Regions from separate parts of the Homo sapiens genome. Here regions 1 and 3 are each linked to region 2. The links come from fine-mapping of genetic effects on gene expression. A gene starts in region 2. Each other region holds a variant in brackets. All regions are shown on one strand. Distances are between the middles of the regions. Region 1 overlaps FRYL (FRY like transcription coactivator). Region 2 holds the start of CNGA1 (cyclic nucleotide gated channel subunit alpha 1). Region 3 overlaps TXK (TXK tyrosine kinase).

Region 1 (9,605 bases), 540 kb before region 2:
ATAGACCTCTAGAACTTTTTCATCCTGCAGAACTGAAAAGTCTATACCCACTAAACAACAATCCTGCTTTTCCCTCTGCCCCCAAGCTCTGGTAATCAGAATTCTACTTTGTGTTTCTATGGATTTGACTACTTTAGGTACTCCATATATGTGGAATCATACATATATGTTGATTTGTATTTTTGTTTGTGATTGGCTTATTTCAGGTAACATAATGTCATCAAGCTTCAGCCCCGTTGTGGCATATGACAGGATTTCTTTCCTGTTTTCCCTTTTTTAAGGGTGCATAATATTCCACTATATGTATATACATTTGGTTTATTCATTCATCTGTCAATGGACATTTAGGTTGCTTCCACCTACCTCTTGGCTATTGTGAATTGTGCTGTTAATGAACATGGATGTACAAATATTTGTTTGAGTTTCTGCTTTCAATTTTTTTCAATGTATACTCAGAAGTGGGGTTGCTGGATCATATGATAGTTCTATTTTTATTTTTTTGAGGAACCATCATACTGTTTCCCAGAAAGTATGCACCATTTTACAATGCCACCAACAGTGCACAAACATTTATTTTAACTGCCAAAAGTATTTTGTATAAAATGTATGTGATTTATGTTAGCTGTTAATTTTATGATGTCGTTGAGGTGAAATTTGCTAAAAGGAAAAACAATACTCATAATTGTTAAGTGTAATGAGTAAAATGAATAAAATCTGGCTTCTGAAATCTGTTGGAATTAATTACGGGTCAGAGGAAGCTGAAATTACATCAGTTATCTTTGACTTGTTTTCAATTTCAGAGATAAGCCAGAGAATCCAGACAGCTCACCCTGCTGGGCGGCAGGTGATGCTGCACTACCTGCTACCATGGATGAACAACATCGAGCTGGTGGACTTAAAACCTCTCCCCACAGCAAGGCGACATGATGAAGATGAAGATGATTCCTTAAAAGACCGAGAACTTATGGTGACTAGTAGGCGCTGGTTACGGGGAGAAGGATGGGGATCTCCACAAGCCACTGCAATGGTTTTGAACAATCTGATGTATATGACAGCAAAGGTAAAATGAGTTTTGTATTTATAATTGCTGCACAGAATTATTGAGTGAGTAGATGTGGTTAGAAACAGATGAAGAGGTTCCATAATCCTGTGATAACCAAACAAATATCTTTCTTTAAAAAAGACTCATTAGATATGAATTTTTTTTACTAAAACCATATATGATTAATTATATTTATGTTTAGATTTGTTGGAAGAAATTATTGTTTCTGTAAAGTGTGGAAACGATTAAAGCTATCTGTACAAAACATTTTTTAATATTTCATGGTATGACAAGTTTGGTTTTTATAATAGGCAGTCATGACTGAAGTATCTTTTGTGCATATTGCATCTAGTATGGCGATGAACTGGCCTGGTCGGAGGTGGAGAATGTGTGGACCACACTTGCAGATGGCTGGCCCAAAAACCTGAAAATAATTTTGCACTTTTTGATCAGCATTTGTGGGGTGAATAGCGAACCAAGCCTCTTGCCTTACGTATGTATTCAAGTTCATTTAATTTTAAAATATATGTATATATTTACTAGTATCTTGTGATGTCAGAGTATGGGCAGCAGTTGCCCAGGAGAGGCAAGGCAAGGCAAGGGCCGGGATGAAGACAGTCAGGAAATAGCACATGGATTTATTCACTGATTCAGTTAGCAAATGTTATCTATCATTATGACAGGCCAGGTGCTCTTCTGGGTATTACAATCTGATGGGTAATACAGAATTTATTTGTTGAAGCTACATCTGATTTATTTAATGAATAAATCAGTAAGCTAATAAAGTATAGTGTGATAAAGGCTATAAAAAAATTGCAGAGTTCTGAGAGTAAAAAACCTAGGAACCACAGCTGTCTGGAAGGATTCAAGATGACACTTGAGAGAAAGTGATATTGAAGCTGAAACCACACACTGGGGATGTTTCTAGTTTCTGCTAGGCAGAGCTGGCATTTAGATATGAGAACAGGATGGTGAGTGTGAGCTCAGTGCACGTAGGATTGTCCTTCAGGCTGCTGGAAGCAAGGGAAAGCATGGTAAGAGATATGAAACGAAGAAGATAACATCTTTGCCTTCCAGGGGAGAAAGGAACATCCAGATCTGCCCAAGTCAAGAGGACACATTTGATATGAAACTATGAAACCTGAGGGTTAAATGGACACACATGCTCACATGTCTTTGTAGATGCAGATATAGATATCTATCCCGTGGCAGCATCCCCCAAAAGTGTGGTCCACGGAAGACTAGTCCTACAGAATGTTATCTAAAAGTTCTTACAGGCCAGGCGCAGTGGCTCATGCCTATAATTCCAGCACTTTGGGAGGCCGAGGCAGGCGGATCACCTGAGGTCAGGAGTCCGAGGCCAGCCTGGCCAACATGGTAAAACACCATCTCTACTAAAAATCCAAAAATTAGCCGGGTGTGGTGGCGCATGCCTGTAATCCCAGCTACTCAGGAGGCTGAGGCAGGAGAATTGCTTGAGCCCAGGAGGCAGAGGTTGCAGTGAGCCAAGATTGCACCACTGCACTCCAGCCTGGGCAGCAGAGTGAGACTCCATCTCAAAAATAAAATAAAAATAAATAAATAAATAAAAGTTCTACAGATTCTATTTTAAACAAACCACTTGATAGCTTTGCTTTACTCAGCATTCCCCAAGTTCACTTGGTCACTGAAAGCATCATTGCCAAGGTGTACCACAGGCATAGTGCCTTTGAGAAGTGCTTAGAGAACTGTAGGTGTATGGTACAAGACAACGTTACCGCACGTTACCTCTCTGACTGTGTCTCCTATATTCTGTCTGGTGCTCCCACCCTTCAGCTGCGCTGGCCCCCTTTGCTTCCACCTCTCTCACCAGGCATTCCCTCCTCGGGGCCCTCACACTCACTTGCCTTCTCTTCCCCAGTTAGCCACGTTACTCACTCCTCACCTCTTTCAGGTCCTCCTTCAGGTGGCAGTGCCCACTGGGACTTCTGCTGCCCATCCTGTCTAAAACTGCAAATGCACCACCTCCACACACACACTCCATTTCCTTTCCCTTCTTCATTGATCTTTCTGGCACTTAATCATCACCAAACACATGATATATTTTACCTATTTACCTCATTAATTTTGCATCAACCAGTAGATTGTAGGCTCCTTAAGAATGGTAGTTTTTGTCTATTTGATTCACTGCTAAATTTCCATTTAGTGTAGTGCCTGGCACATAGAAGGTGCCCATTAATTGGATGAACGAATGGGGGAGTTAGAGTCAGTACTAGAAAAAGCATGGGATTATACTTTTAAGAGGCCAAATGAAAATTTGGGGAATAGCCATTTTCCAGGAATTTAAAAGGAGCCATTTTTTAAATGTCAATAATAATTTATTGGTTATTATTTTTTAAGCACTTATTATGGGTGCTTATTATAGGCATGGTAAAAGCACTTCATCCACATTATTTAAATCTCAGAATCTATGAGTTTGGTGAGATCACTGCAGTTTTACAGAGGAAAAAACAGGGCAGAGAGAACGGTAATTTCCTCAAGTTCTCACTCTTGTCACTTAATAGATCTAGAATTCCAACCCAGATCTGATGGTGAAGTCAGTATAAGCTTCCTGGAGAAAGGAGTAGAGTTAAGGTGGGGGATGGGGCTTGAAGACTTGATAGGATTAGGGTTGGGAGTGTCAACTCGGAGATCCACAGTCAGGCGGAAGGAACCCACAAAGGCAGGAATGCACACAGCATGCTCAGAGGAGATCGAACCTGAAAATAGAGAGAATTAGCAAGTAGTGCCCATTGGATGGAGTAAAGAGCCATACCTAGAAGGTTATCACTGGGTAACCATGATAAGAGTTTTGGCCTGGTGCTGTGGCTCACGCCTGTAATCCCAGCACTTTGGGAGGCCAAGGCAGGAGGATCACCTGAGGTCAGGAGTTCGAGACCAGCCTGGCCAACATGATGAAACCCCATCTGTACTAAAACTACGAAAATTATCTGGGTGTGGCGGCAGGCACCTGTAATCCCACCTACTCGGAGGCTGACGCAGGGGGAATTGCTTGAACCGGGGAGGCAGAGGTGGCAGTGAGCCACGATGGTGCCACTGCACTCTAGCCTGGGCGACAGAGCGAGACTCCGTCTCAAAAAAAAAAAAAAGAATTTGGTTGGGATATAATAAATCATGTTTTAAGATTCATCCAGGGGTCATATAAAGCAGTGCTTTTCATATGTCTGTAAAAATACGAATCATTCTGATTCTGGAGGTGGGGTGGGCCTGAGATTCTCTATTTCTAGCAAACTCCAGATGATGATGCCTGTCTTGCTAGGATCACATTTTGAGTAGTAAGGATTAAAATAGGGAGAAAAAGAGATAGGCTGATCAGTTATGAAGTTATTTCAGTAATATACATTACTAAAACATATGTATATACTACTGAAAAGTTTTTCTACTTATACTGTGTTACTAGCCATTTTTAAAGTGCATTATAAACCTTAACTCATTTAATCTTCCTAATAGCTATATGAAGTAGGTGCTATTACTACCCCCATTTTGCAGATGAGAAAACTGAGAGCAACTTTCCAATGATAGAGTTAGTAAGTGGTATATCCACATTCCAAACCAGGCAATGTAGTTGGAGTTCTAATTTAGTTCTAGTTCTTTGCTCTTAATGACTACTCTGGTTGACTATAGGGAATGGGGAAGGCGGAATAAAAGATAAACCCTGGGTTTGGAGGCTGGCTAACTAAAAATCAGAGGAAAATCTTAGGATGTTATTACCTGTGTTTCCATTAAAAGAGAAATTTTTACAGAAAAGTATTTTTTTGTTTTTTTTTTTTTTTTTTTTTAAAGTAAAGAAAGTGCATAAAGTGGAAACCACTAAACCGCTAAACATACTCAGTTCACCCTAATTAGATCTAATGCTGAGAGTTAGAGGGAGGACAGTATTGATAAAGCTGATTAATGTCTTATTGTTGATCAGTGCTAATTTTGATTTAGATTGTGTTTATTCATCTACCACTTAAAGTTGAACTTACTCTGATAAAGTTTGTCTCAGGAGAAATTAATGAGATAAAAACTTTGCTTTTTCTTTTCTGAACGATTTCTTTTGTGACAGGTGAAGAAGGTCATTGTATATTTAGGTAGAGATAAAACAATGCAGTTGCTAGAAGAGCTGGTGAGTGAGCTTCAGCTGACCGATCCTGTCAGTTCAGGGGTCACTCACATGGATAATCCCCCGTATTATCGCATCACTTCCAGCTATAAAATCCCTTCTGTCACCTCAGGTGAGAAATTTGTTAAAACCGATTGCTGTGTGAGATGATAGACATCTTCATCTGCTTCACTATGGTAACCATTTTAGGGTCTCTATGTCCCATAACATGTTATGAATCTCAGATATATACAATAAAATTTATTAAAAGAAAAAAACAAATCTTCCTCAGTATTGAAAGAGAAGCTTAACATAATTGTTAAACAAGAGTTTATTGTGTCTTTAAATGTATATATATATACACACCTATATGTATGTGCATATATTAAAATTATTGTAATATTTTGAGTATGAAGAAACTATGTTCCTAATAGAAGAACATCCAATGAAATTCAAAATAGTAAAAAGGCTATTGTAGATGAAATTTCTGTTAAACTCTTTGTTACTCAGTTTACTTTAAATGTTTTCAGCATGCTAATAACATTATCTGTAAAACTAGAAATATTTTAAATTATCTCTTTATAATTTATTTTTTACCATCCATTTTCATCACCTAGTCCTTTTGTTTTATTTTCCAGGAGATGTCTAATAATGCTTCTATTGAATTTTTCATATCGGCTAGAATGTTTTTAATTCTAAAGTTTCATTTAATTATAATTTTTTAAAGTAGCATCCTATTCATGTTTCATAGTTGGACTGTTGTTTCGTATCCAATACAGTTATAAAGTTTTCTCCCAGCAGAAGTCCTCATTTTCTCTACATTGCTGTTTTGTGTTGATAAAACTTTTCTCAAAAGCCTACCAATTCTAGATCTGTCTTTTCATAAAGAGTAGAATATTAAAAAAAATATAAGTTCTATAAGTATATATGGAACTTGTTGTCTGTGTGCTTTGTCGTACCATGATTTCAGTGATGCCAACGTCTGTAGGTCTTTTCTCCTAGATTTATCAGATTCCCTAGAGAAAACTCTTTCTAGTCATTTGCCTGCAGAGGGTGTGTCTGAACACACACACACACACACACACACACACACACACACACAC[C/ACC]CCTTTGGACTGTTTATATTTATACACACACATATACACAGGCTTCAAACTTTCTGGAAGCCCAGTGGGGTAAGAAGGATGTTGGGGGGGGTGCAGTCTCAAATTTTAGCATGTGCATTTTCATTTAATGCCCCTGTTCTTTGTAAGGTGCCTCCTCTTTCAGGAGTACATGGCGTGCCCTAGTTCAGGAATCTTCTGATTTACTCTCATCAGAAAAGACTTCTAGAAGTGGGGAAAGACAGCCACCCAGCTGCAAGAGGCAAGAAAGTAGATTTGGGGAACCAGTTACTTCTAAAATAGATTGACTTTCAGCCAGGTTTCCTATTTTTTCGCACCACCTTCAACCCCTGTTTCCAGAGGTTCTCGATGCTACCTTTTGGAAGTTCAGCAATATAAACATGGAAGCTTCTTGGTTTTCACCCACCACCACCTTTGGATTCAGCCTTCTTAACACTTAATTACTTACTGTCCATTTGTATTCTAGCATCCAAAAATTTGTTTGTCTTATGTCCTTTCCCTTTTGGTCATTATGAGTACATTCCTTTTTTTAAATGACTTTGCTCTCATTTTAGTTAAGTTTTGATATCTATAATTTGAGATCTTTTGTTCTTATTGGGTTATTCCAGGTTTGTAGATTCACGAGTACTGCTTTGTCTTTGATTACAGGAACTACTTCCAGTAGCAATACAATGGTAGCTCCCACAGATGGCAATCCTGATAATAAGCCCATTAAAGAGAATATTGAAGAGAGGTAAGTACTTCTCTGTTCTGTATTAGCCTTTCAGTTTGACAGATACTGGTTGTCATCAGAATAAATGATATTTTCTGCATTGAAATGTGGATGTTGCTGTGTTAAAATTCGAGTGAAAAAAATATATTTCCATGCTGGAAACTTTCCACATTGAGAGTTTCAACATTAAAGATGCTAGCCTGCTAGATTTTTTTATATGCTCTAATGTATAAATAGGTGGTATATGGTAAGTCACTTTTTGTATTGCTTAAAGTTTTAGACCTATATAAATGGTATTTACTCCACCTGTTTTGTATGCCAGAATATTATTTTAGGTAGAAATAATTGATTAAAAGTTTAAGCTTTTGGATTATAAGGTGGAAATTAATGTACGTCATAGTAAACTTTTGTTAGTATTTTGTGTACTGTGTCCTTTTTTTTTTTTTATTGAGATGGAGTCTCGCTCTGTTGCCAGACTGGAGTGCAGTGGTGCAATCTCAGCTCAACCTCTGCCTCCCAGGTTCAAGCAATTCTCCTGCCTCAGCCTCCGGAGTAGCTGGGACTACAGGCACACGTCACCACGCTCGGCTAATTTTTGGTATTTTAGTAGACACGGGGTTTCACCATGTTGGCCAGGATGGTCTCGATCTCCTGACCTCATGATCCTCCTGCCTTGGCCTCCCAAAGTGCTGGGATTACAGGCTTGAACCATGGCGTCCGTCCTCCTTTTTTAAACAGAGAAAGTGAAACATAAAGTATAAATACCATTGCACCGTGAACTGTGACTAACTTCAGTGATCATTCCCATAGCTATGTGCACCTGGACATTTACAGTGGACTAAACAGTCATTTGAATCGGCAACATCACAGACTAGAATCCCGATACAGTAGCAGCTCTGGAGGATCTTATGAAGAAGAAAAAAGTAATAAATTCCAAATGTTTTTAATATAACTATAAGGGTGAGGTGTATTGTTAATTACATTAATGTTAATAAATATATATTTTCAGTAAATTGTTTTTAAAAAGCGTATTTAACTGCCACTAGTGGTGTTCCAACATAATCTGAAACATCTTGATTTTAAGAAGCAACGTAATTGGGTGAAATTTTTTTTAAAGCACTGGTTTCCTATAGATAAATCACAAGGAACATAAGAACTGGTTCTCAGGAAGCATCATAGAACAAATACTGGAAACAGGCTGATTTTTTTTAGCAGGATTGCTCCTTCTGCATGGATTCACTTTTTCCTTAAAAGATTCTCCCTTGGCAATTGCAAAGTGAATAATCTACCCAAGTTTCACTATAACGTTAAGGCAGGGTATCATAGAAGCACAGGCTTTCAGACTGGGAAGGGACACTGAAGATGATCTGGTCCAATCTCCTCATTTTGCACATGATGGAACTGAGGTCCAGAGAGGTTAAGTGACTTACCCACGTCACACAGAATTCACATTTCCTGACATTTTTTATTGCACCCCGCAGCCCCACTGTGGTAGAGCAGAGTTCCTTTCAAGATGGAGCTGTGTTGGCCCTATCTCAGGATATTTAGAACTGAATAACTTACCAGAAGGCCCTTTGTTACAAGGCAGCTTCACCAATAATGTGATCTCCTGGCTTGGACATCATTGATGGAATCATGATGAAGTGCTAATATAGTTTTGCTTTGACGTACAGGGTGGAACCTAAATTAATCTCTTTCTCTCTCTCCCTCTCCCTGGTTTGCTTAATTTGATAATATTTGTGCCTAGATTTTCCTAGCAAACATGTTGAAATAGTGGGAAATTTTTTTTATCACTTTCCAATACTATATAAATAGTTGGGATCTTACTAGAGTTTGCTTATATTGGCAGAAATTAGATGGTGTAGAAAATGAGATCATTTTATCTTGATAGGTGATTCAATGCCACTTTATTCTAATTGGCGACTGAAAGTGATGGAGCATAACCAAGGAGAGCCACTGCCCTTCCCACCAGCTGGAGGCTGCTGGTCACCACTGGTGGATTACGTGCCTGAAACGTCATCACCTGGATTACCTCTTCACAGGTGGACTACAGCGTCATTCCTTTTACATATGCACCAAGTTGCTGCTGAACACTGTCGGCTTTCTTTGTGCTATCTGACAACACAGAATGAAAGCAATCTTCTTTATGGAGATACTGCAACACAGATCAATGTGTTTAGATTCTAAGAAATCTAAAAAACTCAGAATTCTAACTTTATAAAATTAATATTATTAAATCTAATTCTGCTGCTGCTTTTCTGGGTGTCTGGCATAGTTACTTGACCTTTCTGGGACCCAGTTACTACATCTGAAAAATATGACTTTCCTATGGTAGGCACTATTATTTTGCATCGAGTTAAATTGAATTCTACTTAGCAAAATCACAATAGAGCAATTACTGCATTCTTTCAAAATGTATTAATGCACCAAACATGTATTGAACACCTACTGTGGCAAGCAGTGTGCTAAGTCTCAAGGTTGAAAGATGAAGAAAATGTGGCTCCTGAGTTCAAGGAACCCTTAGCCCTTATGTTCTGTTCCATCTCTTTAACTTAATGGTTAACGTTTTCTTCAGCTGTATTTGTTTTTCCTCCTTTTTCCTTGATA
Region 2 (8,000 bases):
CTTACAATACTGGTGCCTCATAAATGTTGCTGATGGACCAGTTCTAAACTCATAGGCACTGATAGAGGAGAGATATTTTAAAGAAACTGATGCCAATATATTAAGTGACACTGGCCAAAGTTATGTAACTGCTAAAACCAGGGCCAAGTAACCCAATTCCCAGCCAGCATTCTATTTCAGAAAAATAAAAACATAAAGTACAAGAAAAAGCCAGTTGAAATTTATTATTCATGTTTATATAAGGATGAAATGCTTTAAATAATTTGTCAAATATTTGCCTATAGAGAATAATAATATAAATTTAAATAATAATTTAAATTATCCAGTTTATTACATGGAATAGAAATCTGGTTTTAAGAAAGTCAATAATTGTATAAAACTACCTTTTTAATCACCGCAAGATATTTCCAGTTGGGGGTCTCACCATCTATTCTACTGTGATAGTTTGGATTATTATTCATTCAGTATTCAGCCCCTTACCTTTCCCAATGTGGGCAAAGGTGCTTCACCTGATGTTGGGCTGGAAGTAAGTTGGTGGCCAATGGGAAGTCAGCAGAAGTGATATGAAGCTAGATTTCAAAGATGCTTATGTGGTTGGGTTTACTCATTTGCATCTCTGTAATTCCCTGAGGAGCTGCTGTCCCTTCAGCCTCTGCACCCAAATGAAGACACATGGAGCAGATCTGAGCTCATCCCACATGAAGGAGCCAAACCCAGGTGGACATTAGCCTGAAGCAGAGACATATAGGTGAGCCCCATCTAGATCAGTCAACCTTCAGCTGACCTAGAAACCTAAGCAAGAATATGTGATATACCTGCCTATTCATATTAGCATGGGAATGACTGAATGAAATCTCTTTATATCTGTTACAATTTATTCTCCAAACGCTAACCAGTGGGAAGTAGGTTATATCACTCCCTGGCTTAATACTCCCTGTCCCCTGTCATGGTTTTTCATCTCAACTTACAACAAAATCTCAACTCCTCACTAACTTTGAACTTTAAAGCTTCTCATGCTCTGAAACTGGCTCGTCTCTGACATCATATTGCATTACTCTCCCTCTCACCCCTCTCTGAAACACTAATCTTCTTTTCCTTCATTCAACAAATATGTATGGTGTACTACCTGTTGGGCATTTTCTAGAATCTGGAGATAGAAAAATGAATACAACAATGGTCCCGCTCTCTTATATTCCAGTGGGGGCAGATAGGATTAACAAACAAATAACTATACGTATGTTAAGAGTGCCATAGCAAGTAGTAAAAGCAGCATCAAGGAATATATTTTTTAAAACAGGATTAAACAAAAGAGCCTCTCTGCTAAGTCTAAAAGCAGAAACCCTGAGGGGTTGAAGAAACTGCAGTCAGCCAGGTTGCCTGGGGTGACAGAAAGGGAGATGGTATGAGATGTGGCTAAAGAGTAGGTGGGAGAAGGATCAGGTGAAATGAACCTTTAGACAAGTAGGTCTGATCTTGTCATTCCTCCTTCCAAAACTCCACAAGGGCTTCCCTTCTCATTCCGAAAAAAATCCAAAATTCCCACTATAGCCTATAAGGCCCTGTGGAATCCTGTCTCCAGCTGCCTAACCTCATTCCCTACTATTGCCTTTTCTTCTGTTCCTTTCATAGAATAAGTTCCTTCTCACCTTAAGCTTTTTAAAAAGCAGCTGTTCCTGAGCCTGTTACAGAGTGCTGGCTGGCATAGCTAGCTTCTTCTGAGTGAGAGGACTAAGCAACTCAGAGAGGCCTTTCCTGCCTTCCCAATCTAAAGGAACCTCTCAGTCACTTTCCATCATATGTTCCCAATCAAATAGACTTCCTCATATGGCTTAATTACAGCTTTATAACAACCTTCATACATATTTGCATTTGTTTCTTTTAAAGATAATTTTGGATTAGAGACTCTTTTGAAGCATCTATAGCTTTAAAAGTCAAAACCAATGTGGGGTGGGGGATGGCTCATGCCTGTAAACCCAGCACTTTGGGATGCCAAGGTAGGAGTATCACTTGAAGTCAGGAGTTCAAGACCAGCCTGGTCAACACAGTGAAACCCGTATTAAAAATACAAAAATTAGCTGGGCATGGTGGCATGTGCCTGTATTCCCAGCTACTTGAGAGGCTGAGGCAGGAGAATTGCTTGAACCCAGGTGGAAGTTGCAGTGAGCTGAAATTGCACCACTGCATGCCATCCTGGGTGACGGAGTGGCACTCCGCCTCAAAAAAACAAAAAAAAGTCAAAACCAAAGTATGAAATTAACTTTTTCTTCATGGAAGTTCAACTGGAATGTTCTATCTTCAGATCTCATGACTGACCCCTTGTCATTTGGGTCTCAGCTTGAATATCACTTTCGTAAGGGGCTTTCATTGAATACCCAATCTAAACATCCCAACACTCTTGATACATTACTGCTATTATAATGATCTTTTAAATTACTTTGTTTCTTGCATAGTAGCTGCCATCTGAACAGTAAGGTGCCTGAGAGCAGGAACCTAGTCCTAGAGTCTGGGACCAGACTGTCTTGCAGATCCCTCTATCCCAGCACCTATGCCAGTGCTTGGCACATGGGACTCTTGTTATTTGAATGAACAAGTGAAAAATTGAGTCTTTGTTTACTCCATGTCAAGCTCTGAGTGGTGTAGTTCATATGTAATCCCACCTGCACCTACTCTTCAGAACTGTAAACTGGAGGGATGACCCCCAATTTATAGACAGGAAAATGCTCAAGGAAGCTAAGTTACAGCTCAGACTGTCTGATGCCAAAGCCTAATCTCTTCCCACTACTAATAACGTGCATTCAGATTTCTAAGTCTTTCTCACCAGCTTTTCACACAATTAATTACCATGGTTAATCACAGGTATTAAGCCTGGAGCTTAAATGTTTCTTGTTGGAACTCAATGCATAAGCAAAGCAGGAAAAACATCCAGAAGCTCAAACAAGTGGGTGTAATTCATATACCTTCCTTACTTACAGATCCTTGGGTAAACAAGTGTGGGTGTGTTAGTAACTGTCAGATTTGCTGGGTTAGAAATTATTTAGAAAAAGGGCACACAACCTGACTCTCTAGGAAATAATTCTAGATTCAGCTGCCTTAAAATTTTTGTTTTTTAATAGTTTGTGAGTTGTTCAGGCGTTATTGCTCTTTTTCAGAAAAAAAGACTAGAAAATAATTCTAGATCCAGCGGCCTTAAAAAATTTTTTTTAATAGCTTGTGAATTGTTCAGGCATTTTTCTCCTTTTTTTGGTGTCCCTTCTCTTCCTTGCTAGCATGGTTTGGACGAGCTCACTTGTTAAAAAGGAATAAGCTGGAAGAGTCAAGAGGAGAGGAAACTAGGGAAGTTGCGAGCACCTTTGCAAAGGTGTATATGTATATACATATATATATATATATATGTGTAAGGGAACTATATATATATGTGTATATATATAGTAGTTCTTACCATGCCTTTCACTGCCTCCCTTCCCCTTTACTGCATTATCAGGTAAATTAAAAAGCTGCTTTCCCCTTGGTACGGCGAAAACCATCATTTCAATGTATCTACATCCTTCCAGTCGCTCCCCCTACCCCCTTCCCTACTTTTATCGGGGCCTTCTGTATGGAGACTGCAGAAAACCCGCCAGTGTTGCGAACACTTGGCGAAGGGCAAGGAGCCTCGCCCAGAGATTTCACGGGGCTCAGGTGAGAAGCAGTAAGAAGAGCCTGCAAACGAGTGCTCCCGGTTCCAGGTTTCCTCTCCAGTACGGCTCTCGCCTTAAGCAGCCAGAGTGACTGCACAGCGAGTCAGACAGGCTCATGGGTTTGGAGACCTTTTCATTTCCAAGGAAGAGGAGAGACGTGGGCGGCCCAGACTTGCCCAACGCCCACCCCCGCGGCCCCGGGCGCCCAACCTCTCGCGGTGCTCGATCCCCGGGAGCCAGCGCAGGGCGCAGCGCAGAACTCCCACGGGCCCCCCAGGCAGACACGCCCTCTGCCCACCGGGTGACGTCGGCCGCAGACTCTGGAAGGGAGCCTGAGTCAGAGGAAACGTCCTTCTCAGAGGGACTCGGGATTCTTCCCATAGCATCCTGAGTTTCCCCGTCCCACACGCAGCACGCGGTAATTTACACTGGTCGGCCTCGCGAATCGAGTGGGAGTCCCACCTGCCTTATTCCACTCAGGTTTTCCAGCACAGCCCGAATCGCCTAGGCACCCATAAATAAGTGTTGAACGCCTGGCTGGACGGCCGACTGACTGAATGAATGAATGAGTGAACGACTACGTTTAGAGTCGGTACAGCCCCCCTTTCCAGTCTCCGCAAGTGTCCGGGGACCGCCCACCCGGTCTCTTCGCCACCCAGCTGCCAGGTCCCTCGGCTCAGGGCAGACACAAACCTTCTCGGCAGGGCTCTCCGGGCGGCAGCCTCACCTGTGCCCCCATGGCCCCGGGAGCGGGCTTCCGGAACGCGGGCGCTTGCTCCTCACCTGGGCCTCTCCACACGCACCCGCGGCGGGCGGGGCTGCGGGGTCTGGGAATGGGGCGCCCTGACCCCGCCCCCGGGGCAGCCTCCGCCAATGGGCATGGCCAGGCGGGGCCTCAGCGCCAGCCGAGCCCTGCTGCCCGGGGCTTGTTGCGAATTCTCAGGGCCCCCGCAGGCCTGGGAGCGGCCTGTGATAACTGGTGTATCTGGCAGGAGTAGCAGCTGCCCCTTGGCGCGACTGCTGGAGCCGCGAACTAGAGAAACACAGACACGCCTCATAGAGCAACAGCGTCTCTCGGAGCGTGGAGCCCGCCAAGGTAACTCCGGGAATTGAGTGGAGTGGAGGCTGCACTGAGGCCCCCTTCTGGCTCCTCTCTGGTCGAAAAGGCTCCCCCGCTAGAGAGAGCCCTGCTGCTTTTGGAAGCCTTCAGGTGTTAGTTGCTTTGCACCGAAGCTGCTGACTGCTGGGGTTCTGCGCCGATTGCCAGGCTCAAGTTTATTTTGGGGGCTGCTGAGCAGACTTTGCCCTTCTGTGCTGTTATCAGCTTCTGTCGCTGTCCGTCCACGCCCGCTATATCCATCCACTCTCCGTTCTGTCTCCAGCAGGCAACTCCCCCTACCCTGCCCCATTTTCTGGGTCATAGGGGTATTTGAAATAAACCTTTAAGGGAAAAGCAATGCCAAAACTGGAAAGACTTATTTCCACGAATTATTAATAACTAATGTTTATGATATCCTTGTTATACCATACATATGCAGGCACATTATGTATTAATTAAATCTCACAGCAGTCTATTAACGCTCAGTTTACAGATGAGGGATTAGAGGCAAAGAGTGAGGTTAAGTAACCAAACCAAGGTTGGAAGACCTGATAGCAGGTATTTACAAAACAAGGAGTGGGCAGGGCTGGCGGGTGGCTCACCCCTGTAATCACAGCACTTTGGGAGGTTGAGGCGAGTGGCTCTCTTGAGTCCACAAGTTCGAGACTAGCCTGGGCATCATGGTGAAACCCTGTCTCTACAAAAATTAGCCAGATGTGGTGGTGTACTCCTGTAGTCTCAGCTACTCAGGAGGCTGAGGTGGGAGGACGGATGACTTGAGCCCAGGAGGTGGAGGCTACAGTGAGACATGATCGAACCACTGCACTCTAGTCCAGGCAACAGAGTGAGACCCTGTCTCAAGAAAAAAAAAGGTGAGGGGTGGGGTAGTGAACAATTCGGGCTCAAACCCTCACCAGGGAGAACTGGGGTGCCTTTGTGCTCTGGCATTTTAACACTGAGGAAAATATTCTCATGTACTCAGGTAGCCTTTGTTCTAAGTAGGCATGAACAGTGCTATTAATTTTATTACCTAAGAGTTTCATAGCAGAGGCCTCAATCTTGTTTTTCTTGTTCTTAGGCGGATGAGAGAAGAGCTAAGAACAAATTAGTCAACATACCAGTCCAAGGCACCCACTTTTATAATACATATGGATGACTTTGCAGAGAAGGAACACCACGGAGAGTGGAATAGGTGAAAGTTGAAAGCGAGGGAGATTTATGCCAATTTTCCATAACAAGCCTTAAAACTTAGACTTCTTTTTGTTTGCTTGTTTGTTTGTTTGGCTTGGTTTGGTTTTTTTTGAGACGGAGTCTCGCTCTGTCGCCCAGGCTGGAGTGCAGTGGCGCGATCTCGGCTCACTGCAAGCTCCGCCTCCTGGGTTCACGCCATTCTCCTGCCTCAGCCTCCCGAGTAGCTGGGACTACAGGCGCCCCCCACCACGCCCGGCTAATTTTTTGTATTTTTTTTTTTAGTAGAGATGGGGTTTCACCGTGTTAACCAGCATGCTCTCAATCTCCTGACCTCGTGATCCGCCTACCTCGGCCTCCCAAAGGGCTGGGATTACAGGCGTGAGCCACCTAGCCCGGCCCAAAACTTAGACTTCTATTTAAACGTTTTCTTTGGATTTCCAACTTAAAATTTTGTCTTTATCAAAAATTAGTAATGATGGTAAACGTGATCTATGGTGCTTATTTTTTATTTAACAAACACTTGGATAGCATTTACTATGTGGCAAGCACTATTCTAATCTCTTTGTAAATATTTGCTTTATAAATCTTCATGAAAATCCTGTAAGGTAGATACTACTACCCCCACTTTACAGCTGAGGAAATGGAGGCACACAAAGATTGAGTAACTGGCCTATGCACACATAACCAGTAAGTGTGGAACCAAGATGCTAACCAAGAAAGCTGGGCTTCAAGTATGTGCTCTTAACCCATTTGGTAATTGGACATTAAAAAACAAAACAGACTTTAAAAAATGTATCTTTATTGAATTTCAGTTGCATATTAAGGTCTACTTTAGGTAAGAGGCATTTTGTTGTAGTTCTTGCTTTTCAATTCTGAAAATAAAGAGAAAAAATTCAGAAAAAAAATATTTAAACTCATTTAAGACCACTGCTTTTCCAGTTTAAATGTTGCCTAGCAGAAATTTATAATATGTATTTTCCTTCATTGATAATTTCTAGATGACTTTGGGGAATACCGTTATAGTACCACACACTGTCTTTAATGACATAAAGTTGGGGGATATTTATTCCCCCGCAAAATCATGTTGTTTGTTTAACTAAAAGAAGAGCATTAAAAAAATCTCCAACTAGCCCATTCTTTGATTCTAGGAAAATTACTCTTCTGACTCAAAAATTAGAATGCGATAATAACTGAGACCCTCTAAAATGCCAACTTCTGTTTTATTGGTCTTTGTGCTAGGACACTTAGACCCAGGGGTGATGGTCAAAATAAATAATGATTAGTAGAGCCTTAGGGCCTCAAGGGACAAGGCCACAGGTCTTTCGAGCTTGGGGAGGTCTGGGAGGGTTCCTGGTGTGTCAAGGTTAACCCCTGAGTTGCTACATTGTAGGGAGGTCTGTGGTTTCTGGGGCAAGGAATAAGATGACTAGACAAGAGGGGTGGTAGCTGGGGAGTAGAAACCACCTTTGCAAAAATTATATCACTGAGAAAATTTTAACAGTAAGCTGAGTAATTCATCCTCCATCTTGCCTTTCCCTTAATTATTCCTGGGTTATTGAGTTGTGAAAGAAAATCAATAGTGGAGCCCCCAAATCACTAAGCTAAAGGGAAAAGTGAAGCTTGGAACTGCTTAGGGCCAACCTGCCTCCCATTCTATTCAAACTCACACCTCTGCTCACTGACATATCTGATCGCCTCCTTTGGAGAGGCTAGTCAGAAACTCAAAATAATGCAACCATTTGTCTCTTATCTACCTATGACCTGGAAAGCCCCGTCCCTGGTTCCAGTATTCCTGCCTTTGCTTTGAGTTGTCCCGTCTTTCCAGACAGAACCAATGTTCATCTTGCATATGTTGATTGATGTCTCATGTGTCCCTAGAATGTATAAAACCCAACTGTGCTCTGACCACCTTGGGCACATGTCATCAGGACCTCCTGAGGCTGTGTCATGGGGTTGTGTTATCAACCTTGGCAAAATAAACTGTAAATTCACTGAGACCTGTCTCAAATTTTTGGGGTTCACATTTTGGTAAC
Region 3 (10,944 bases), 54 kb before region 2:
GTGTGCCTGTAGTACCAGCTACTTAAGAGGCTAAGGTGGGAGGATGGTTTGACCCCAGGAGGGGAAGGTTGCAGTGAGCCAACATGGTGCCATTGCACTCCAGCCTGGGCAACAGAGCCAGATCCTGTCTCAAAAAAAAAAGTGAAGGCAAACTATTGAATCTATACCATTGATGGATATCACCATAAAAATGACTTGGCGGTACACACAGAGAGGTAGTGTGGGGTCCAAATAACCTAAGGAAAAGGAGAGGAAAAACTCTTGAAATAAAAGCTTGTATTCAAACTTGGATTCTTTTCTTCTTTCCATAGGCGGCAAGGAATTGTTTGGTCAGTTCAACATGCATAGTAAAAATTTCAGACTTTGGAATGACAAGGTACATGCTATGTATATATATATGTATTTTGTTTGTTTGTTTACTCATAAGAGGGAATCTTACATTTGTTTACTGATAAACTGAAGATGCTGCAGGCTGTGTTTTTATCTTCCTAGGTTGTAGGCCTGGTTGTATGGCCTACTGACCCACTTTGAATTTTGGGACATGTACCAATTTTAGCTGTGAGGTAAATGTTTACTGTGGGCTATTCTTCTCATCTTTTAGCAAAACTATGGTATATCTTAAAATTAAAAAAGGAATTTCTTGATACACTGAGAAACGTGAAGAAAAAAGCATTCCTGATATACATATGTTTATGGAAGAAAAAGAAATAAATTTGTTTGCTCAGCTCTGATTTTTCTGTGTCCTCACCAAACATTTCTATTATTAAGTATAGTAGTTGACTTTAAGTCTAAAATTCAAGAGTGTGAAAAATTTAACCATATTTTTCTACAACTCAATATAGTTTAAATTTTGAGCATCCTTTTTTGGGGTGGTGCTAGAAATATAATCACAGGGAATTTGGGGTTTCTCTCTAGCTTCCCTAAGCTTCAAAGTCCAAGTTCTTGTGTCTCGTGGGGCTATAGTACTGGTAGTGAGGTGGCTTACTGGTCCTTTTGTTATCTGTGTGCATGGCATCATTGCAGCCACCATCCTCCGGTCTTGTCTTTGGCTGGCCATTCAAACAGGTAGCTGCTAACACGTACTGAATTTTTTCTGCAAGATTCATTCAGAACTGGCAATTTTTTTTTTCGACAGAGTCTTACTCTGTCACCCAGGCTGGAGTGCAGTGGTGCTCTCTCGGCTCACTGCAGCCTCGACCTCCCAGGCTCAAGCTATCCTCCTGCCTCAGCCCCCCGAGTAGCTGGAACTACAGGCACATGCCACCACGCCCAGCTAATTTTTTATTTTTGGTAGAGGCGGGGTTTCACCATGTTGGCCAGGCTGGTCTTGAACTCCTGACATCAAATATCCACCCACCTCACCTCCAAAAGTGCTGTGATTACAGGTGTGAGCAGTCTCACCTGGCCGGCGTTCTTTATGATTACAAAACTCCATGGTGTGATCTCAGATCTCATTTACCTAGGCACATCCACAGCCATTTGTTCACTGGCATCTTTCTGCCTTTCCAAGGGCTCCACCTGGGGAAAAGAGCACTGGTTCTGTGTCACTTTTAAATCCCACCAACCTAATGTGGGAGTAGGAGCTTCTTTCCTAAAGTACTTGGGCAGCCCTTTAGGGTACAAGATACAGGACCCTAACCCACTGATCTACTAATGTCTAGTACCCCCCTTTTCTTTCCCTTCTATTTCCCCCATTCCTCTTTTTGGGGGAAAAAGATCCCCCCAAAGCTCAGGGGATCTTTTTCTAGATAGTGGTGGTAATAGGGGTGGTGGTAGTGAGATCTCACTCCTGTTCATGGCCCATTTTCCAAGATATTTTGTTAATAACTCAATCTTTCTTCTCTGAAGAGCCTAGACTTGAAAAATTCAAAATCTATAAACAGTGGCTTTTCTCTCTTTGTTTTCTGTTAGTCATTCTTTACCTAAGTAGAATGACCTCTGACTCAATAAAGTGCTGACAGGTGGAGGGAGGTAGTGTATTTAAAAAAAAAGTGAGAGTATAGGGGCAGCATTAATAAATGCTGTGAAAACACTATATTGTATATTTAAGGGGCAACAAGCACAAGTTTATTTTTGTCTCTTCTCCTCAGTGTCTGACATTTGGACATCCCGGTGTACAATTCTCAAAAAAGAGAGAGGGTTCAACTTGTTATTTTTTTAAGGAGACGGTAGTTATTCTTGGTTTCTTTCCATATAGGGCCATTCTAGTGCATTAGAGATTTGTCATATCAGAAGCATTATGTTCATATACTTTTACTTTCCCCCCTTCTGTATGCCCCACAAAAAAACATGCACATGGAAGAAAATTCGACATCCAACTTTGAATCATTCATTTCCATTTTAAGAAGAGTGGTCTTTGTTTTCCCCACCCCTGGGAAGAGTGGTCTTTTATTTCCTTTTTATAATCTTGGTTGTTAGAGCCTTTAGCAGGCTTCTTTGTAGAGTTAAGAATTTACCATAATTAACATAAACAGTGAGCCATGTTTTGAACTGAAGCAGCATTATGATTTTCAGAGGTCCACGTAAAACAAATACAATTGAGACTTTGTTTGGGGAGGAAACATTATCAGGGACACTTTCACACTCTACTAACAAGAAGGCATCCACAACCTTTCTGGGGTAAAATACTTTGTCTTTTAGCAACTTAGAGTTAACTAAAGGGATTTGAAGTAAATAGAGCTTGGAGGTAATTAACACAATATGCTTTGAATCTGATAAACTTAGGTACGTTTTGGATGATGAGTATGTCAGTTCTTTTGGAGCCAAGTTCCCAATCAAGTGGTCCCCTCCTGAAGTTTTTCTTTTCAATAAGTACAGCAGTAAATCTGATGTCTGGTCATTTGGTGAGTGCATCTGATGTTCACTTGCTGGAGCTTGATTTAATAAAATGGGCAATGTGTTATTTTTAACTTTGATTTCCTAATTGATATAGCATTTTTTAAAAAGTCTTCTTGTAATTGTGCTTCCTTCTGTGTGTTCTAACCACATCCCGACTGTCTTTGGCAACTGGTGTCACATACCTTCTTACATAAGTCTGCCTTTTGGATCTTTTCCTTCCTCCATGGGCACTCACTATAAAACCATAACAAAGAGTCTACTGATCTAGAAAACAAACTCAGATAAGTTTTCCACTCCGCAGAGGCTTGAAGGAAAAATGATCTTATGACATTGTTTAGAGTGTAATTAATAAACTTAATTGTCTAAACTGTGAAGCAGGTTGACTATTTTCCAGTTGTTCAGTTGTTAACCTGAACTTAAAACCTGAGTTTAAAAAATGGTGGCATCTCATTTACTTCCTTAACTTTAAAGTTTGTGGAATTTAGACATAGGCTTCCTTGGGATCTATAAATTGATATTCATATTGGATAATGTTCTTCATTGAGAAAGAGACACCATAGACCCACGTCCAATGAAGTTTCGGGGTTGATTTTCAAAAAATGGTAATAAATATGCAAAAATCTATCTATCCTCTTTCACCCCAAACTTCCTGGAGGCTTGTGGGTTCTGGGTCCTCAGAAGGGTGTCAGTTTTATTGTCTACAATAAGGTTAAAACTGGGCACAGTGGCTCAGGCCTACAATTCCAGCACTTTGGGAGGCTGAAGTGGGAGGATTGTTTGAGACCAGGAGTTCAAGACTAGCCTGGGCAACCTAGCAAGACTCTGTCTTTACAAAAAAAAAAAAAAAATTAGCCAGGTGTGGTGGCATATACCTGTAGTCCCAGTTCCTCGGGAGGCTGAGGCAGGAGGATTGCTTGAGCCCAGGAGTTTGAGGTTATAGTAAGCTAGGATCGTGCCACTGTACTCCAGCCTGGATGACAGAGCAAGACCCTGCCTCAAAAAAATTAAAACATAAATTTAAAAACATACAATAAAGTTAAGCTTGTGTCATTAATCTCATTAGCTCTCCATGGACATATGATAGTCTCAGCAGGTGACACTTGAAGCTCTACTGAAGAGCAATTAGGTTGTGAGACCACATCTTAGAGACCAATGAAGAGCAATATAACGACCTCATCGAAGGTTGCCAAACAATTAGAACTCCCTGAATTTTACCTACTTGTCTCCCTCACTGAACAGTGAGCTCCTTAGGCACATGGATTGATCTCACACTTATAAAATCTCCAGGCCCCAGCAGAGGCCTCGCCTCTCATCAATGTCTAGTAAATATTTGTAGAATAAGTGAATAATTAAATGAACTCAAATTAGGAGTTCTTGCAGGAGTTTCACTAATCAATCAATCAATGATTATTGGACATCTACTTATGTACAGAGCCCCTGCTAGATATTCTGGGGCTCTGCCCATCAGTCTAATCTTTTAGCAGAAAGAAGGGGACACATGCCATTTACTGGCTGAAACTCTTGGCTAAGTAGGCAGCAGAGGCTCACATAATCCTGTCAGTTTCTATGGAATGGCAGAAAGGTTCATTGATTTCAGGATGCAGGAACGTGACTGCTGCTTAGAAATGAAAATGCTAGGCCGGGCGTGATGGCTTACGTTTGTAATTCCAGCACTTTGGGAGGCTGAGGTGGTCGAATCACCTGAGGTCAGAGCTCGAGACCAGCCTGGCCAACATGGTGAAACCCCGCCTCTACTAAAAATAGAAAAATTAGTTGGGCGTGGTGGTGGGCACCTATAATCCCAGCAACTCAGGAGGCTGAAGCAGAAGAATTGCTTGAACCCGGGAGACAGAGGTTGCAGTGAGCTGAGATCATGCCACTGCACTCCAGCCCGGTAGACAGAGGTTGCAGTGAGCTGAGATCATGCCACTGCACTCCAGCCCGGGCGACAGAGCGAGACCCTGTCTCAAAAAAAAAAAAAAAGAAAAGAAAATGCTACTGGCATTTTCTCCTGATAGGAGAGGCAATCAAGACCCATGGACAAGGAAAGGCATTGTTTTCACTTAGATTATTTTCAGGTTACAGGCCTCTTTGAAAACTAAAGTGAACATGATTTGCTTCCTTGACAGAACCGCTGTTATTCAGGATGGTTATAGCCCAAAGCCTGGAGCACAAAAATAATGCCTTGTAGTTTGAAATTGTTCTTTCAGTTCCCAAGCAATCATTTCTCTCTAACCCCTTGTTTTCCTGCATTTTTGTTTGCAGGAGTTTTAATGTGGGAAGTTTTTACAGAAGGAAAAATGCCTTTTGAAAATAAGTCAAATTTGCAAGTCGTGGAAGCTATTTCTGAAGGCTTCAGGCTATATCGCCCTCACCTGGCACCAATGTCCATATATGAAGTCATGTACAGCTGCTGGCATGAGGTAAGCATATGTTACTTTCCTATGAAGGTTGGCAGTCCCAGCATCTGAGAGCAGACCTGATTATCACAAACATTACTTCAGAACTCTGTCATGGCAGGAAAAGGCATCTGTGTCTTGGTCATGATCCTGAGAGTCTGAAGTACTATCTCAAACTCACTACAAAGTCATGAATCCATTTTGTTTTGAACAATGGCCTTTTATCTGAGGAATTCAGTGCATTTTCTGAGTCTTAT[C/G]TGTTTGAGATTGGTTCTTGCAGAAACTCTTGGTGTTACTCAAGCCTCAGTGATTAGATGTTTTATTAGCTTTAAGAATTAATGGGCCGGGCGCAGTGACTCATGCCTGTAATCTCAGCACTTTGGGAGGCCGAGGCGGGTGGATCACCTGAGGTCAGGAGTTTGAGACCAGCCCAGCCAACGTGGTAAAACCCCATCTCTACTAAAAATACAAAAATTAGCCGGGCGTGGTGGTGCATGCCTGTAATCCCAGCTACTGGGGATGCTGAAGCAGGAGAAGAATCTTGAACCTGGGAGGCGGAGCTTGCAGTGAGCCGAGATGGCGCCACTGCACTCCAGCCTGGGCGACAGAGTGAGACTCCATCTCAAAAAAAAAAAAAAAAAAAAAAAGAATTAAATGATGGAGGCTGTGTGTGGTGGCTCACGCCTGTAACCCCAGCACTTTGGGAGGCCGAGGTGGCCAGATCACTTGAGGTCAGGAGTTTGAGACCAGCCTGGCCAACATGGTGAAACCCTGTCTCTACTAAAAATACAAAAATTAGCCAGGCCTGGTGGTGCATGCCTGTAATTCCAGCTACTTGGGAGGCGGAGATAGGAGAATTGCTCGAACCCAGGAGGCAAAGGCTACAGTGAGCTGAGATTGCGCCACTACACTCCAGCCTGGACAACAGAACAAGACTCTGTCTCAAAAAATAAATAAATAAATAAATAAGCAAATAAATAAAAGAATTAATGGTGGAAACTAAGGGTAGAACCAGGCTTGTTAAATTTCCAGGTTGAAAAAGAAAGATGGTGTTTCCATTTACTTCACTCAACTTTGCTTTGTCTTGCTTTTCCAACGCTAATAGTAATGGGTTTCATCTGTCTTCTGGCAGTCAGGACTCCTGCTACAGATTAAACTAGAATAGGAATGGAGGCAGAAAGTGTGTCAGGAACTTCCACTCAGGAAGAAATCTCTCCAGAACTTAGTTTTTCTATTTGTTGAAATGCCAAGCTTAGAAATAAAGCCAGAGGGGCTTCTTTTCCACCTCTGGGCACTGACTCAACACACCCCTGCCCTTCTCAGTGAAATTCCCTTTGATTTTGAGAGCTTTGGTCTCTTTCCAGCTGACAGTTTCAGCTGGAAATTGCAGCTTGATGAGAAGTTTCCTCCTGGCTGAAAAAATAAAGCACTTGATTATCAATCCACAAACACTAGAATATTGAATATTTTAAGAGTGATGTGGTTATTCATATTCCAAAAGCATTACATTTATAGAGAGCCCCAATGTATGAAAATATTTTACATATATTAACTACTTTACAAGGAATCTTGAAAGACATAGAAAAATGCTCAGCAAGCTGTAAGAAAAAAATGTTCAGAAAAATGTTCAGTGAGTAGTAATAAGCAGCCGTTTTAGGAGCATCTTTGCAATAACAATGTAAGTAGCTCAGAAGTATATGTTGTGTATGAAATAATACACACGTGTGTGTGTAATATAATGCTTATTGAGATGTTATATGTAAGTGGAACTGAGACATAGAAGGAGGAAGGGAAGTGATAAGTAGGATGCTGTCAGAAGGACCATGTAAACAACATTTGTCTCAAATTGCAATCAGAACATTGATTAATACAATGGTGTGGTTATGTCGATTTATTTGTTTGAAAAAGTTGATTTGGCCGGGTGTGGTGGCTCATGCTTGTAATCCCAGCACTTTGGGAGGCTGAGGTGGGCGAATCACGAGGCTGGGAGTTCGAGACCAGCCTGGCTAACATGGTGAAACCCCGTCTCTACTAAAAATACAAAAAAATTAGCTGGGCATGGTGGCGGGCACCTGTAATCCCAGCTACTCAGGAGGCTGAGGCAGGAGAATTGTTTGAACCTGGGAGGCAGAGGTTGCAGTGAGCCAAGATCCCACCATTGCACTCCAGCCTGGGTGACTGGGCCAGACTGTCTCAAAAAAAAAAAAAAAAAAAGAAAAGAAAAGATTGATTTATTTTTGAGACAGAGTCTTGCTCTGTTTCCCAGACTACAGTGCAGTGGCACAATCACATCTCACTGCAGCCTTGACCTCCTGGGCTTACGCAATCCGCCCAGCTCAGCCTCCTGAATAGCTGGGACTACAGTGATGTGCCACCATGACCAGCTAATTTTTTAAAATTTTTTCTAGAGATGGGGTCTCACTTTGTTGCCCAGGCCTCAAGCAGTCCTCCTACCTTGGCCTCCCAAAGTGCTGGGATTACAGATGTGAGTCATTATGTCAGGTGCAAAAGTTGATATTGCCTACAGCTTTACCCCATGTGCTTAGGGCATTAGAGTCAAACGTGATTATGCTATCTTTGAGAGACAAATTTCAGGATTCATGCGCAGAAACAGGCTCCTCACAGAGCTCCACAATTTATGCCCAGAGTCTCAATAAGGACCCTCACTTGCACTTGTGCTGTCTTCTGCTCTGTTTATTTTACTGATGCTCTCTGTTTATAAGCCATGAAGAGGGGTGTCTTTCCGCTGACCCTACTGTCAATGACCCCTGTGAGAATGTGGCTACTATGAGTAGCTCTGTTTCCCATGGTTTTAAAAGATGCTGACAGTGCCATCTCTTCTTCCTCTTGGAATCAGAGCTAAACCACACCCCTAAGTGAAGTAGGAAAAAATGCTCCAATCCTTGGCTCCATGACCAGGGATATGGGGTCACTTATGGTGAATATCTTCCTTTAGAGTTGCTGACTCAAAAACTGTGCAAAGATCACAGGCTTTTAAAACTTTTTAAAATGTAAGAATATTCAGCAATCATTTTTCTATGTGTGAGAGGGACTTCCACACTCTTATTTTTCTGTTGACTGAGACTGAAAGCACAACCTGTGCCCCAAGACCTTCAAAGTCCCTCATGAAAACATGCCTTTTGCTTTCTGACTGAAATCCTCCTTTCTATAATGGCTCAGGTGTCATAGATACCCTGAACTGAGCTTGGGAGCCTGGTATGCTAGATGCCCCTTCTCCCAGCCCTTTCTTTACCTCACACATGTCAAGTCATTCAAATATATCTCTAGGGTCGTGGTGTCCTAGAGTACTTTCTGAGATGCTGAAACGTTCTATATCTGTGCTGCCCAATATGGCAGCCACTTCTGGCTATTGGGTTCTTGAAAAGTGGCTAGCACGACTGAGTAACTGAATTTAAACATTTATATAATCTTAAGGAATTTAAATTTAAATAGCCACATGTGGCTAGTGTTTGCAGGTCTAGCCGTTTTATTTTTGCAACATTCTCTAACATTTTCATATTCACGCCTCACTCAACTGCCAATCATGCTGTGCTATGTCAGTCAGTCAAGATATCTTTCTCTTCCTTTTTGTGAAGAGCCAGCCTGGATTCAGGTCTCTGCCAGCAAGTTCCAGAGCTGGTCTCTGAGTGATCCTTAGCCTATTTATGCCGCAGGTGGCAATTTTTTGAATTTTTGCATGAGTGAAAAATCAGACCTTGGCGATGACCTCGAGCAGTGGGATATAAGTGACTCCCACATGCTTAGCGTTCCAAAAATGGAACCCTTGGCATAAGTTGGTTAAGCTGAGCTAACCACCCCCACTTCCCTTTTCCAGAAACCTGAAGGCCGCCCTACATTTGCCGAGCTGCTGCGGGCTGTCACAGAGATTGCGGAAACCTGGTGACCGGAAACAGAATGCCAACCCAAAGAGTCATCTTGCAAAACTGTCATTTATTGTGAATATCTTCACCATATGGGGTCACTTATGGTGAATATCTTTCTTCAGAGTTGCTGACTCTTGAAAACAGTGCAAAGATCACAGTTTTTAAAAGTTTTAAAAATTTAAGAATATTCACACAATCGTTTTTCTATGTGTGAGAGGGATTTGCACACTCTTATTTTTCTGTAAAATATTTCACATCCCAAATGTGAAGAAGTGAAAAAGACTTCGCAGCAGTCTTCATTGTGGTGCTCTTCATGATCATAGCCCCAGGAACCCTTGAGGTTCTTCTTCACAAGGCTGAGAGTGCTTCCTTCTTGAAGACGAGTGACATTCATCACTTCAGTGATCCATGCATAGAATATGAAAATAAATTCTTCCAACTCATGGGATAAAGGGGACTCCCTTGAAGAATTTCATGTTTTTGGGCTGTATAGCTCTTTACAGAAAATGCACCTTTATAAATCACATGAATGTTAGTATTCTGGAAATGTCTTTTGTTAATATAATCTTCCCATGTTATTTAACAAATTGTTTTTGCACATATCTGATTATATTGAAAGCAGTTTTTTGCATTCGAGTTTTAAACACTGTTATAAAATGTAGCCAAAGCTCACCTTTGAACAGATCCCGGTGACATTCTATTTCCAGGAAAATCCGGAACCTGATTTTAGTTCTGTGATTTTACACTTTTTACATGTGAGATTGGACAGTTTCAGAGGCCTTATTTTGTCATACTAAGTGTCTCCTGTAATTTTCAGGAAGATGATTTGTTCTTTCCAGAAGAGGAGACAAAAGCAAGATAGCCAAATGTGACATCAAGCTCCATTGTTTCGGAAATCCAGGATTTTGAATTCGAGATGAAACAACCAGCAATCACAGTTAAATCTTAACTTTGCCTGCACTCTTTGTAGGAATGATCAGAAATTTATCTTTATCATTCTGAGTGCTTCAGGAGTACAATAGGAAGAAAGATACTGGAGAAAGCACTAATGTAATCACCATGAAGTCTGACAACAGGAGCCCATTATTTGCGTACTGTCCCACCCTGTATCATGGTTCTCTGGGAACAAGCTTTATGATTCTCATTAGAGTTTATTTGTTGATTGTCAGTAGTTGCGACTTTTAAATTATATTTCCCCCACTCAAAGAATGGTATCTTTATATATCAATGACATTCAATAAATGTGTATTATTTCTAATGAGAATCAGTTACAAGAGGAGACTTGATAGTTCAAGTAGTGGTCTCAGAAATGTTTGGGCTGAATGTGGTGGCTCATGCCTATAATCCCAGCACTTTGGGAGGCCAAGGTGGGAAGATAACTTGAGCCCAGTTTGAGACCAGCCTGGGCAACAAAGTGAGATCCTATCTCTATTACAAGAAAAAAGAAAAAAGAAAAAAAAAGCTAGGTGTAGTGGTGCATGCATGCACGTAGTCCCAGCTACTTGGGAGGCTGAGACAGGAGCCCAGGAGATCAAGGCTGCAGTGAGCCATGATTGTGCCACTGCACTCCAGCCTGGGTGATAGAGCGAGACCCTGTCTCAAAAACAGAAACAAGTTTGTATGAGATGCTAGGCTGTTTCTGAGACTATCACACCCCCTTTCCTATGACTCCTGTTACGGTGAGGAAAGACAGAAGGCTGTTATTACTGAGACCTCAATTCACATAACATGAATTTACATAAGATAGTCTAGCTCAAGAAGACATGAGACTACTAAACAGCAAAAGCAGATGGAAGGGAGGTTAATATTATGACATAGGAAAT

What was found.
Region 1: its variant is fine-mapped to the expression of CNGA1 in synovium (Steinberg 2020, PIP 0.95).
Region 3: its variant is fine-mapped to the expression of CNGA1 in adrenal gland (GTEx, PIP above 0.99).

The regions. Positions count from the first base shown.
Region 1 is chr4:48,548,908-48,558,512 of GRCh38, reverse strand. It overlaps FRYL (FRY like transcription coactivator), which reads left to right. Exons shown (of 64, transcript NM_015030.2): 34 at 801-1,060; 35 at 1,395-1,535; 36 at 5,130-5,298; 37 at 6,935-7,019; 38 at 7,809-7,921; 39 at 8,890-9,040. Among named protein-coding and RNA genes, the nearest start is that of ZAR1, 63 kb to the right of the region's middle. The variant C/ACC (reference allele first, on the strand shown) is at 6,269.
Region 2 is chr4:48,013,256-48,021,255 of GRCh38, reverse strand. CNGA1 (cyclic nucleotide gated channel subunit alpha 1) reads left to right here and starts at 4,575. Exons shown (of 11, transcript NM_001379270.1): 1 at 4,575-4,773. NIPAL1 (NIPA like domain containing 1) reads right to left here and starts at 4,484. Exons shown (of 6, transcript NM_207330.3): 1 at 4,371-4,484. The coding sequence starts at 4,416. RefSeq lists silencers at 3,849-4,008, 4,299-4,628 and an enhancer at 4,393-4,894.
Region 3 is chr4:48,065,834-48,076,777 of GRCh38, reverse strand. It overlaps TXK (TXK tyrosine kinase), which reads left to right. Exons shown (of 15, transcript NM_003328.3): 12 at 312-376; 13 at 2,725-2,843; 14 at 5,104-5,261; 15 at 9,073-10,385. The coding sequence ends at 9,141. Among named protein-coding and RNA genes, the nearest start is that of NIPAL1, 55 kb to the right of the region's middle. The variant C/G (reference allele first, on the strand shown) is at 5,495.